2 separate regions of the Homo sapiens genome follow, and region 1 is linked to region 2. Evidence: fine-mapped expression QTL. A gene starts in region 2. The other region holds a variant in brackets. All regions are shown on one strand. Distances are from middle to middle.

The links. PIP is the estimated chance that this variant, and not a neighbour inherited with it, causes the effect. A credible set is the group of variants that fine-mapping cannot tell apart.
Region 1: its variant is the best candidate, but not a certain one, in a credible set for the expression of DENND4A in whole blood (INTERVAL, PIP 0.63).

The regions. Positions count from the first base shown.
Region 1 is chr15:65,637,334-65,642,827 of GRCh38, reverse strand. It overlaps SLC24A1 (solute carrier family 24 member 1), which reads right to left. Exons shown (of 10, transcript NM_004727.3): 3 at 4,647-4,700; 4 at 3,125-3,233. Among named protein-coding and RNA genes, the nearest start is that of SLC24A1, 18 kb to the right of the region's middle. The variant T/GCCTCAGT (reference allele first, on the strand shown) is at 3,258.
Region 2 is chr15:65,789,520-65,794,519 of GRCh38, reverse strand. It overlaps DENND4A (DENN domain containing 4A), which reads left to right and starts at 2,227. Exons shown (of 33, transcript NM_001320835.1): 1 at 2,227-2,510. LOC105370866 (a long non-coding RNA gene) reads right to left here and starts at 2,047. Exons shown (of 3, transcript XR_932372.2): 1 at 1,748-2,047. RefSeq lists enhancers at 1,531-2,150, 1,374-2,339 and a silencer at 2,341-2,670.

The DNA.
Region 1 (5,494 bases), 150 kb after region 2:
CAGATAAATGGGTCTGGAATTTCCTCCTCTCTACCTGTCTCCTAAACTCTCAGTTAGTTCAGCTGCAGCTGGCTCTGGCAATAAGCTCCATGGGTAGAGCCACTATGACATGTGTGGTCCCTCGAAGTGGCCTGGTGGGCCTGGGTCCTCATCAGAACTGAGAGGTGGGGGGCCAACACACCTTCGTCCAGACAAACCCAGTGCCCCCTTGGCACTAATCAAACCCTGAAGTCTTCTGTTGAGCAATGTGTAGCTGCTGTCACAGGAGGGCTCCCTTGGTTCTGGTCTTGGCACTGAGATTATCTGCTGGCTGTTGCTGGAAGGGCTAGCCATAAACACAAGCTTCCCCCTTTCCTTCTCATCCTCATCACAGCCTAGACTCTCACTTCCCATGTTACTGAGGAAAACAGGTCAGCTGCAGGGTCTCCCCCACCCTGTCTCACACACATCCAAGTGAAATCACCAGAAAAGCCATGGGACCCTGGAGAGGATAAGCCCCTTCACAGGGAAGGTGAGAGTTCAGACCCCAGGAAACATCTTTTCCACGGATCAGCTCTGTGGAAAGAGCTGGAACACCTGTAAAGAGTGGAAACATCTGGACGGCCATCTGGAAACAGCATACAAAAACACAAATGTGCATCTAGAGAGCCTGGGGAACAAAGGCCCTCATCACAGCCCTGCATGGTCCCCACCCCTCCCATATGTCATCTCAGGGTGTAGAATCAGGCTGGGCTCTTGAGCACGACTGAATCCCAGAGGACATCTGCAGTCACGAGAGCCATTCCATGCCCCAAAGACACCCAGAGACAATGTACCAGCATGCTTGTCCTCCCTGGGATGATTGCTGCTGGCTCCTGGGCACTCGTTTCCTCACATGCCTCTCCCCTCTCAGCAGGGCCGGATCATGGCTTTAGCATCAATCTCCTCTGACCTCAGCCTGGCCTGAACATCACATAATCCTGTTAGGACAAGTAGGCCAGCTGGAGGCTGTTGGTCATGGAGATGCCCAGCTGGGGGCCCTCCAGTCCCACCCAAGAGGTCTTTATCATCAGGACTTTGCTAGAGTCAGTGATTCCTCTGGGAGTAGCCACTGATGACCCAGAGATACAGCTTTCCTCATGGGGCCCTGGCCAGAGCACCCCGGCACTCATCACCAGAGGCTGTCAGGGGCTGCAGCTTCCATTCTGCAAACCCCAGAGGTACTATTTTTCTAGAGCTGACATTTGGGGATGGCCTCTCTCACATGTCTGCTGAGGTTTACCTTGAGGAATTGCTTTTTATTTTTTCTTTTCTCTCTCTTTTTTTCCTAACAGCTCCATCAGCAGCTTAGATTAATTTTTTTCTCCCTTTCTCTCTCTCTCTGTTCTTACCTTGAGGAATTCCTAAGGAAGGTTTCATCACTTGTCTTTGATGCAGCTTTTCACAGTATGGTTTATTTATTTATTTGTTTGTTTGTTTGTTTGTTTATTTAGAGATGGTCTCGCTCTGTCACCAGGCTGGAGTGCAGTGGCACGATCTTGGCTTACTGCAATCTCTGCCTCCCAGGTTCAAGCGATTCTCCTGCCTCAGCCTCCCAAGTAGCTGGGACTACAGGTGTGTGCCAATTTTTGTGTTTTTAGTAGAGACAGGGTTTCACCATGTTGCCCAGGATGCTCTCGATTTCTTGACCTCGTGATCCGCCCACCTTGGCCTCCCAAAGTACTGGGATTACAGGCGTGAGCCACTGTGTCCAGCCTTTTTAAAAATTATTTATTTATTTATTTATTTGAGGTGGAGTCTCACTCTGCAGCCTAGGCTGGAGTGCAGCGGTGCAATCTCGGCTCACTACAACCTCCACCTCCCGGGTTCAAGTGACTCTCCCGTCTCAGCCTCCCAAGTAGCTGGGATTACAGGCGCCTGCCACCACGCCTGGCTAATTTTTTTTGTATTTTAGTAGAGATGGGGTTTCACCGTGTTGCCCAGGCTGGTCTTGGACTCCTGAGCTCAGGCAATCCACCTGCCTCGGCCTCCCAAGATGCTAGGATTACAGGCGTGAGCCACCATGCCTGGCTGGTATTTTTTTTTAAAACAACTGACAACCCAATATTGTCTCTGAAAAGGACTTCAGAGCCTAAAGAAAATTCTGAGCCCCGAAAATTTGTCCTTGAGCCAGAAAGGTCAGTCAGAGTGCTCCCTGGGACTCAATGGATCATTCTGTGGTGTCATATTCAGCTCAGCCCTCAGCCCTCCTGCCCAACTGCAGTCCAAGCCCTTGGCTTTTGCACAAAGGCTAGCATTTCCTTGATGGGCCTCCTGGCTGGGTTCCGGTTCTGCACCAGAGCCCCAGAGATGGGGAGGCTCCAGGAGAGCAGGAGAGTAGCTGAGAAGTGCCCTTTAGGGGTCTGAGATGCATGTTGGGGGCAGCTCTCTGGGGAAGAGAAGCAGAAGGCAGGATGTGGTAAGGTGGACAGTGAGAATCTCAGCCGCTGCCACCATTTGTCAAATTGGACAACAGCCCCCACTATACTTTGGACCCTGCTCTTACCCTCGTCACCCTTAAAAGGGTCCTGGCAGTTTCCAGGGTGTCCTTTGGGATTCCAGACTTGGGGAGGAGTTGGCAGGTTTCCTAGGACTCCAGAGTTGAATATAAAGCAAAAGGAAGTGCCACTAAGAACTTCTGGGCTTTGGGACCCTACAAGAGGCGTCCCCAGAAGCAGCCCAGGCCAGTCAGCCTGGGCTGAGCTGCTTGGCTAGACACTCTCCATGGAACACTGGGGCTGACTCCTGGGCAGTGGGCTTTGCAGGGCAGCCCCATCCCAAATCTGTGCAGAGCACATGGTACTCACAGCCTAACTGCAGGTTAATGCCTTCATTTTACAGGGAGGGACAGAGGCAGGGAAGTGGGATGTGGATACCCAAGGACCTTAGCCTCCATGTTCTTTGTTGCCCTCTCTTGGTGAGTCCCCTGTCTTGGTCTCTACCCTCTTTCCCAGACTGTCTGACTTTTACTACTTTCCTCTGCTTATTATCTCTTCCCACTCCCTCCTCACTGCCTCTAGGATTTTCAGGTCCCAGTTCTTCTCCAGCTGCAGGAGGGAAGGAGTGGATGGGGCAAACCACAAAGGTCTGGAGAGGCCTTGCTTACCTTCCCTCAGGGGGTCCAGGCTGTGGAGCATGAGCTGGTAGATGGTGCTGCGGATGGTGCTGTTGTGCAGAGAGGTCGAGCTGCTCCCTCGGGTCAGCAAGGACGGGAGCTGAGCAAGAGGAGAGCCGCACAG[T/GCCTCAGT]GGGCCCCTGTCCAAGCCAGGGGAGGAACCACACGAGGGCATCACTAACCTTGCCTCTTTCCCATAAAGATCAGGGAGAAAGCACAGATGCCTTATCCTGACCTCCCCTCTTCCTCCACCTCCAACCAGAAGAGTTACACTACTTTCTTTCTCAGCCTCCCCTCAGCTCTTCCAGGACTATTTTGTTTTAGGTACTGAATAATTTCCCAACGTCTCCACAGGGAGCAACCTGGTGTATTAGGAATATCACGTTATGAAGGGTTTGCACATCCCTGCAAGTACACCCTCAGAAACACTCCCTCACCCACACACCACACAGACAGACCCACTGCACATGGCTACAGCCCTTTACAGTCCACAAAGAGCATTATCACGTTTTATCATTGCCCCACTCCCAGAGACAAGCAAAGCTATGATCCCCATCTATGGAAAGGGAAAGGAAAACTCAAAGAAGCTAGGTGCCTAAGCCAAGGTCATGCAGGAAGTAAATGAAAGAGTCAGACTGGTACCCAGGTCTTCTGTGGTCTTCTGATTCCCAGTTTTCAGTTTTGTTTTGGTTTTTTTTCTGCCCATGTGCTCAGAGACCCTCACAGGTACACACATACACACACATCTATACTGTACAGACACAGATGTGACACTTATTCATAGTGACACATATAGAAATATCATCTGATTTACAATGGAACATCCAAAGACAACGCTTCCACACTTGCGGAGTCCTCCCTCCCTTCTCTTCTTCCTCCCTCCTTTCTTCCCCCTCATCCCTCTGATCTGAACTCTTCTGCCATCTAGTGGTTGTGGTGACACTACTTCACCACAAGTCAGAGATTTTCTTTGGATGGGGGAGGTTCTTTAGGTTCAAGTTCGGAACTCCTTTCAAAGTTCCCCATAATTCTTTCCAGATACTTCATAGACTATAAACAGCTAAGACACAGTTTTTCAGAAACCTCAGACTCCTGTCCTCTCCAGTTCCCCTGCTATCTTTCTCTTAGTTCTGGGGCATTCCAAAGCCATAGGTAATCTGGCTTTTATATCAATCATACAATGTTGGGCTGTACATTAGGACTTGAATTCATCTAGTTCAAACAGTCATTTTACAGATGCAGAATCTGAAGCTCAAGGTCACACAGCAAGCTAATGGCAGAGAGGACTGTAACATTCCAGACTTAGCTCCCAAACTAGCACCTCCTCAAAGGCCATCTAGAGGTGAGAGTTCTCAGAAAAAGAGCCCTCTCCTCCCTTGCCTCACCCTGGCAGCGCTCCCAGGAGTTTCCTAGGCCTGAGCACAGCCAGGGTCCCCAGCACAGGGCCACAATACCCTGGGCCTGTGATCATCCACTGAGACCCTGCAGTGTCCCCACTGGGCAGACTCCATACGGCACCCACCTTCAGCTTCTTGTTATCCTGTAGCTCATCCACCGCAATGGCCCCATCGCCCGGCTGCAAACAGGGAGAGGAGTCACGAGATGTTGTGGCGAGACCCTCACTTTCTCCCTACATCCCTTTCTCCACGGAAGTCCTCAGGTTGAAATACAGAAACACACTCCGAGATAACCTGGTCTCAGAAAATGTTTCAACATGTTCCATCCCTCCAGTCTGACCTTCTATAATCTGGCTTCAGCCTGCAATGCAGTACCCCCAGTCGAATCTGTCCACTCACCATAGTCCAGTGGCACCAACTGTCTTTGGGTTTCTGAAATGTGCCATCCTCTTCACCCACCTCAAAACCCTCATCACAGGGCCCCTCGCCCCCTGTCCGTAATGCTCTTTCCCTCCTCAGGCTTCTGGTCTCCACTTAAGTGTCACCTTCCTCTGGGAAGCCATGTATAATTCTTTTATAGACCCCTGTTCTTTTCCTTCACTGCACTTTCCCCAATTTATTTGTGGAAATAAGTTGACTGCCCCACTAGCATCTTGAAGGTAGACTGTTTTATTCACCACTGTGTGGCCAGCATGAGAACACTGCCCAGCACTTAGCAAGAGCTCAATATTTATTAAATGAATGAATAAATGAAAATCAACTGTCCTCTAAATACACTTAATCTATTCTAAGTCTTGTTCCCTTGTTCATGCCTTTTTCTCCTGCCTAAAATGCCATCTCCATTCCTTTCTGCCTACTCAAATCTTATCCATTTTTTATAAAATTCAGGGTGAATTCTTGTATGAAGCTTTCCCAAATGCCCCTTCCATGCCCCCTCCCACCCTCCCTTCAGCTCATTACAATACCTCTCTCC
Region 2 (5,000 bases):
TAGAATCCCTTGCCCAAATCACATCTAGGGTTTAGGTTTAACTGTGACTATAGTCACATATGCCTGGAGTGTTGAGAGGACTCCTGATATGACTGTTAAGGGGGGCTCTGAGGTACGATACTTCCTGGGTACACAGTCAAATGCTGCGTATTGGTTTTCTACTGTTTATCAATATTGTTCTTTAAGAAGCTATTTTCTCTGATTAAAAAAACCTTCACGCCTTTTAAACTTTTGAAAGGTTTTAGAATCTCATTGTGTATGCTACATGCAACTATATAACATTTTAATTGGTACTCTGTAGATGAAAATATTTGTGTGTATATATATATATATATGCACATATACATGTATAACCAACTAAAAGAGTGCTTTTGCTGCTAGTGGAATATTTTGATATGCCAAGCTACTCCTTAAAGAGGAATTGACCTGATACGTCTAGCAACACTTAAAACTAATGAAAGGCTAAATCTGTGTCCAATGGGTAAAGAATTGGGAGGGTTCCCAACTGGACTTTAAAAAAAGCTTTTTAAGGTAGGGCACAATGGCTCATGCCTGTAAACCCAGCACTATGGGAGGCTGAGGTGGGTGGATCACTTGACCCCAGGAATTCAAGACCGGCCTTAGGCAACATAGTGAGACATAGTCTCTACAAAAAACAGAAAAATTTGCTGGGTGTGGTGGTGGGCACCTGCAGTCCCAGCTACTCCAGAGGCTGAGGTGGGAGGATCAATTGAGCCTGGGAGGGAGGCTGTAGTAAGCCGTGATCAGGCCACTGCACTCCAGCCTGGGCAACATAGCAAGACTCTGTGTCAAAAACAAGTCTTTTTTTACAGCTTTAACTGACATACAGAGGACTACATATATTTAAAGTATGCAACTCGATTGTTTTGTTTTGTTTTAAAGCAAAATCTTGCTCTGTCACCCAGGCTGGAGTGCAGTGGCACAATCTCGGCTCACTGCAGCCTCCGGCTCTGGGGCTCAAGCGATCCTCCCACCTCAGCCTCTCAAGTAGCTGGGACCACAGGCGCACGCCACCACGCCCGGCTAATTTTTTGTATTTTTGGTGGAGACAGGGTTCTCGCCATTTTGCCAGGCTAGTCTTGAACTTCTGAGCTCAAGCTGACCCTCTTGCCTCGGCCTCCCTAAGCGTTGGGATTACAGGCATGAGCAAAGGCGCCTGGCCTCAGTTATTTTTCTAACCTTTATAGCATGTTTCCCCTTAAAATGTGCTTAAGTACTTTTTTATTGTCCCTCTTCTCCCACTAAACTGCAGTTTCCTGAAGGCAAAGGTTTTCTGTTTCCCTCACCACTGTGCACCCTCTGTATGGATGTTTGTTGACTGAATGAATGAATACAATGAAAGAACTGGAGGTAGGAAATAAAGTTGTAAACTTGGTTAGTAAAAGGCTATGCAATTTAGGAAAAGTTGACTTTAAAGCAGAGGGATTTTGGGGGTCCTGTTTCTTCTTTCATTTGTCCATGGAATAATGTCTAACATTTATTGAGTACTTTCAAGCACTATACTAAGTACTTCACAGGTACTATAGAATTTAACTCCCGAGCAACCCCATGGGGGTAATCAAGCTTTATTAACCTCATCTGTCAACAGCCATCAATGGTGGAGAGCCACAGTCAGGTTTAAGTAGGCCGTATCCAATTAATCCAAAGTAATCGACACCCCGTCAGTCAACAATAGCTGTTTCATCAACGTACTTTTCGGAGAAACCCCCTGAATTCCCCGCTTTACCTTTCTATCTTGGGACCGAAACCTACTCGGCGGTTGCTAACCCTTAAGGGAGTTTCCTGGAGAATGTGAGCACCCTTGGTGGAGGAGCAGCAGCTGCTCAGATCTAGCAAGTCTGAGACGAACCGAGCAAGGCAATCTCAGGACTCCCAGAGTGCCGGGGAGGAAGGAAGAAACAGGTCAGTTGGCGCGAACTGGATTCTTGTGCCTCTGGGTGACGAAAGGTGAAGGGATTGTACGCTTCGCCCACGCCAGCCTGGGGCTCGGGATCTCCTGACCCGACGGGGAACCACGGTGCGTTTCCCCAACTACACCGCACGTCACGGACTAAGGCGACTTAGTCCCGCCCACCTTCACCGCCCCATTATCAGTTTGGCGCTAGGACCCCACGACCCTCAACTCGGCCCTCTCCTCCCACTCGGGCCAGATCCGGCCTTCGATTGGTGCTCGCGGGCGTGATTCCCGCCCCCGCCCCTTCCGTCATTGCCAAGATGGCGCCGGTCGCGGTGGCCGCGGAGGCTAGAGTCGGAGAAAGAGGCGGAGGCAGTGGCGGCCGCGAGGGGAGGGGGAGTCCCGTCTGACTGAGACGGCAGGCCTGGGCGGGCGGGCGGGGGTGCCGCGAAGGGCGGAGCGCCGGGCTGGGGATGAGCTAAGCGGGCTCAGAGCGCCGCGGCATTCAGCCCCTCGTGTTCCGCTACCGCGCGTGCGGGATTCCGGCGCCGCTCTCCGAGCTCGATCCGCTGCTCGCACGGGAGCCAGCTGGGTGGTGAGTGCGGGGGCGGCGACCCGGGCAGCGGTGGCAGGTGGAGCTGTCACGGCCCGGAGAGGTGACAGCCGGGGGCGCGGGAGCGGGGCGGGTGGGTTCGGGGAGGAGGCACGGATGGCCGAGATCTCCGCCCGAGAGCTCCTGAGATCCGGGAGGTGCTCCGCGGCTCGGTCCGCCCCGGGATGGCGCGGCGGTGCTGAGAGTAGCACCCGCGCCTCTGCGTCGGACGCGTGGGGGGCTCCTGTGTTTTCATTCCAGATTTTCTATTCCAGGCTGGCCTGGGGCTGTTGTTATTTGGGAGTGGGGGCGGGGAGGGGGAGGTCCTGGATCTGGGATTTTGACAAGCCCGTTACGTAAGTCGGAGGTGGCTTCCCGGAATCCCACCTGCTCGGTATCTGAGACAGGCGGCGGGGGGAGCCCGGGGTGCCTGCAGGCCCACTTTTCCTCCCAGGGTCTGTTCAGCCTTCCCCGGCCCGCGGGCACGGGTTCTGCGTGAGCGCGGCCAGCGTCCAAGTTGACCAGTTTTTTTTCTAGTCTTTTTGGGGGGGTGTGTGGTGGGGGAAGGGAACTGTTCCTGGTTACCACCATTCCCTTTGAAGTTTATTGTTTTCTGGAGGTGGGGGGCAGGAAAAACAGTAAAAAGCTTGTGACCTAAAATTGGGTCGCAGCGACAGCTTTTCATTATCGTGCTTTTAAATGACAGATGTGCTGGAAGATTGTTGTTGTTGTTCCAATGTGCTTTTAATTCAAACGTATGGTTACGCCTAGAACCGTAGAGAGAGGTTTTTGTCTTATAGGACAGTTATTTCTTGTTTGCAACAGCAGGACAGGCATCAGTCAACAGGCATGTATTTATTTGAGGAGAAAACGCGTGTCAGCCAGCTAGAGACCCGTGAGGGCAGAAATTGTATTACTCTGTGAATATGTTATTCTTTAAAATGTATTATACGTTAATGAAAAGAATAGCCCGAATGTAAAAGAAGTCTTAGAAGATTACAAGCTGTTATTTGGTGTGTATATAGTCTCCTTCTATTTTCTGTTTACCCTAGTATACCTCTTCTCTCCTTGGGGGAGGAGGTGGAGACACCTGTAAACAGCGTAGCCCCGGTTACGCTAATCTATTGTAGTACATTTGGGATTATTTTAAGAAGTATTCTGGGGGACCTAAGATTGGGTAATAAGTAAGGACTCTTGAGCAAGTTATTCAGTTTATGTTGATAGCGGTTCTGGGATTCGACTTCTGAAAACTTAAGTATACAAAATTTCTGAGCTGTTTGAACCCTGTTTGAACTTAAAATAAAATATTATATTTGGCTTCTTTTTTGGAAACTGTTTTGGGCAGAATTAAACATTTTCGGCAATTTTTACTTTATTTTCACGATTTCCCTTTGAACCACAGCTCTCAGTAGGAGTCCAGAACAGCATATGTTATCATCATCATTATATATAATATGTTACATAATTTTCTTTTTCTGAATGATTAAACATAGACCTACTTCACTGTGGAGTTTAATTTTTGTTTTATATTATTTTTTAAGCCCCTTCCATTCTGGGATCACTGTGGAATTTTATAACAGTGTACTTGCTGAGAAAGTTAATTGATCTTGATACCAGTCGCAAATTGGGAATAAATGTAGATAACTTTTGGTCCAAGTTTTAAACTTATATACACAAATTTACATTTTTGAAAATTGGTGAAGCAATATGAATTTTTTGTCTGTGCAAGAGAGCCAGGAAGTTGATGCTGATTTGTTCTGAACTTTTCCACATGAATTACCACTGGTTTAAAGAGTTATTGATTCTCAAGTTCCTGGAACTGTTGTCCTATTTCTGGTAACTTGAATAGTATTTAGTATAATTGGGAGGCTAGAAGAAGAGACTACATGACATTTATTAATTCATTAAAAAAATTATGGCAGAATTGTAAAATAAAATTAGCTGGGATTAATAGAATTGTAAAATAAAAGTAGCTGGGACTACAGGCGTGCACCACCGTGCTTGGCTAATTTTTGTATTTTTTGAGACGGGGTTTCGCCATGTTGCCCAGACTGGTTTTGAACTCGTGAGCCCAAGCAATCTGCCCGCCTTGGCCTCCCAAAGTGCTGAGATTACAGGCGTGAGCTACCGCACCCGGCCAGTTATTACTCTTATAACTGCTATTATAAAACTTGGTTTTCCACTGAGTGATATTAGTTACATTATATTTTGTTGTTTGCAGAATTTTTCAAAGCATTCTATGTCCTACAAAAACCTAGTTAAAGCACTGATGCAGATAGAGTTGTTTGGTATATAATAAACCTTGTGCTATTCCTACTTAAATTGATGGTGCGTTGTTCTAGGTGGAAAACAAAAGTTGCTCTAGCAGGAAAATTGACTTGTTATTCTTGCCTTCTCTGATGTCAGAGACTTATCTTTGTGGGATTTTTCCTTTTTCCTACCACAGGTAGAAGAAGAGTGACTGAGAATAGCTGATACATTTTTCTTCCTTTT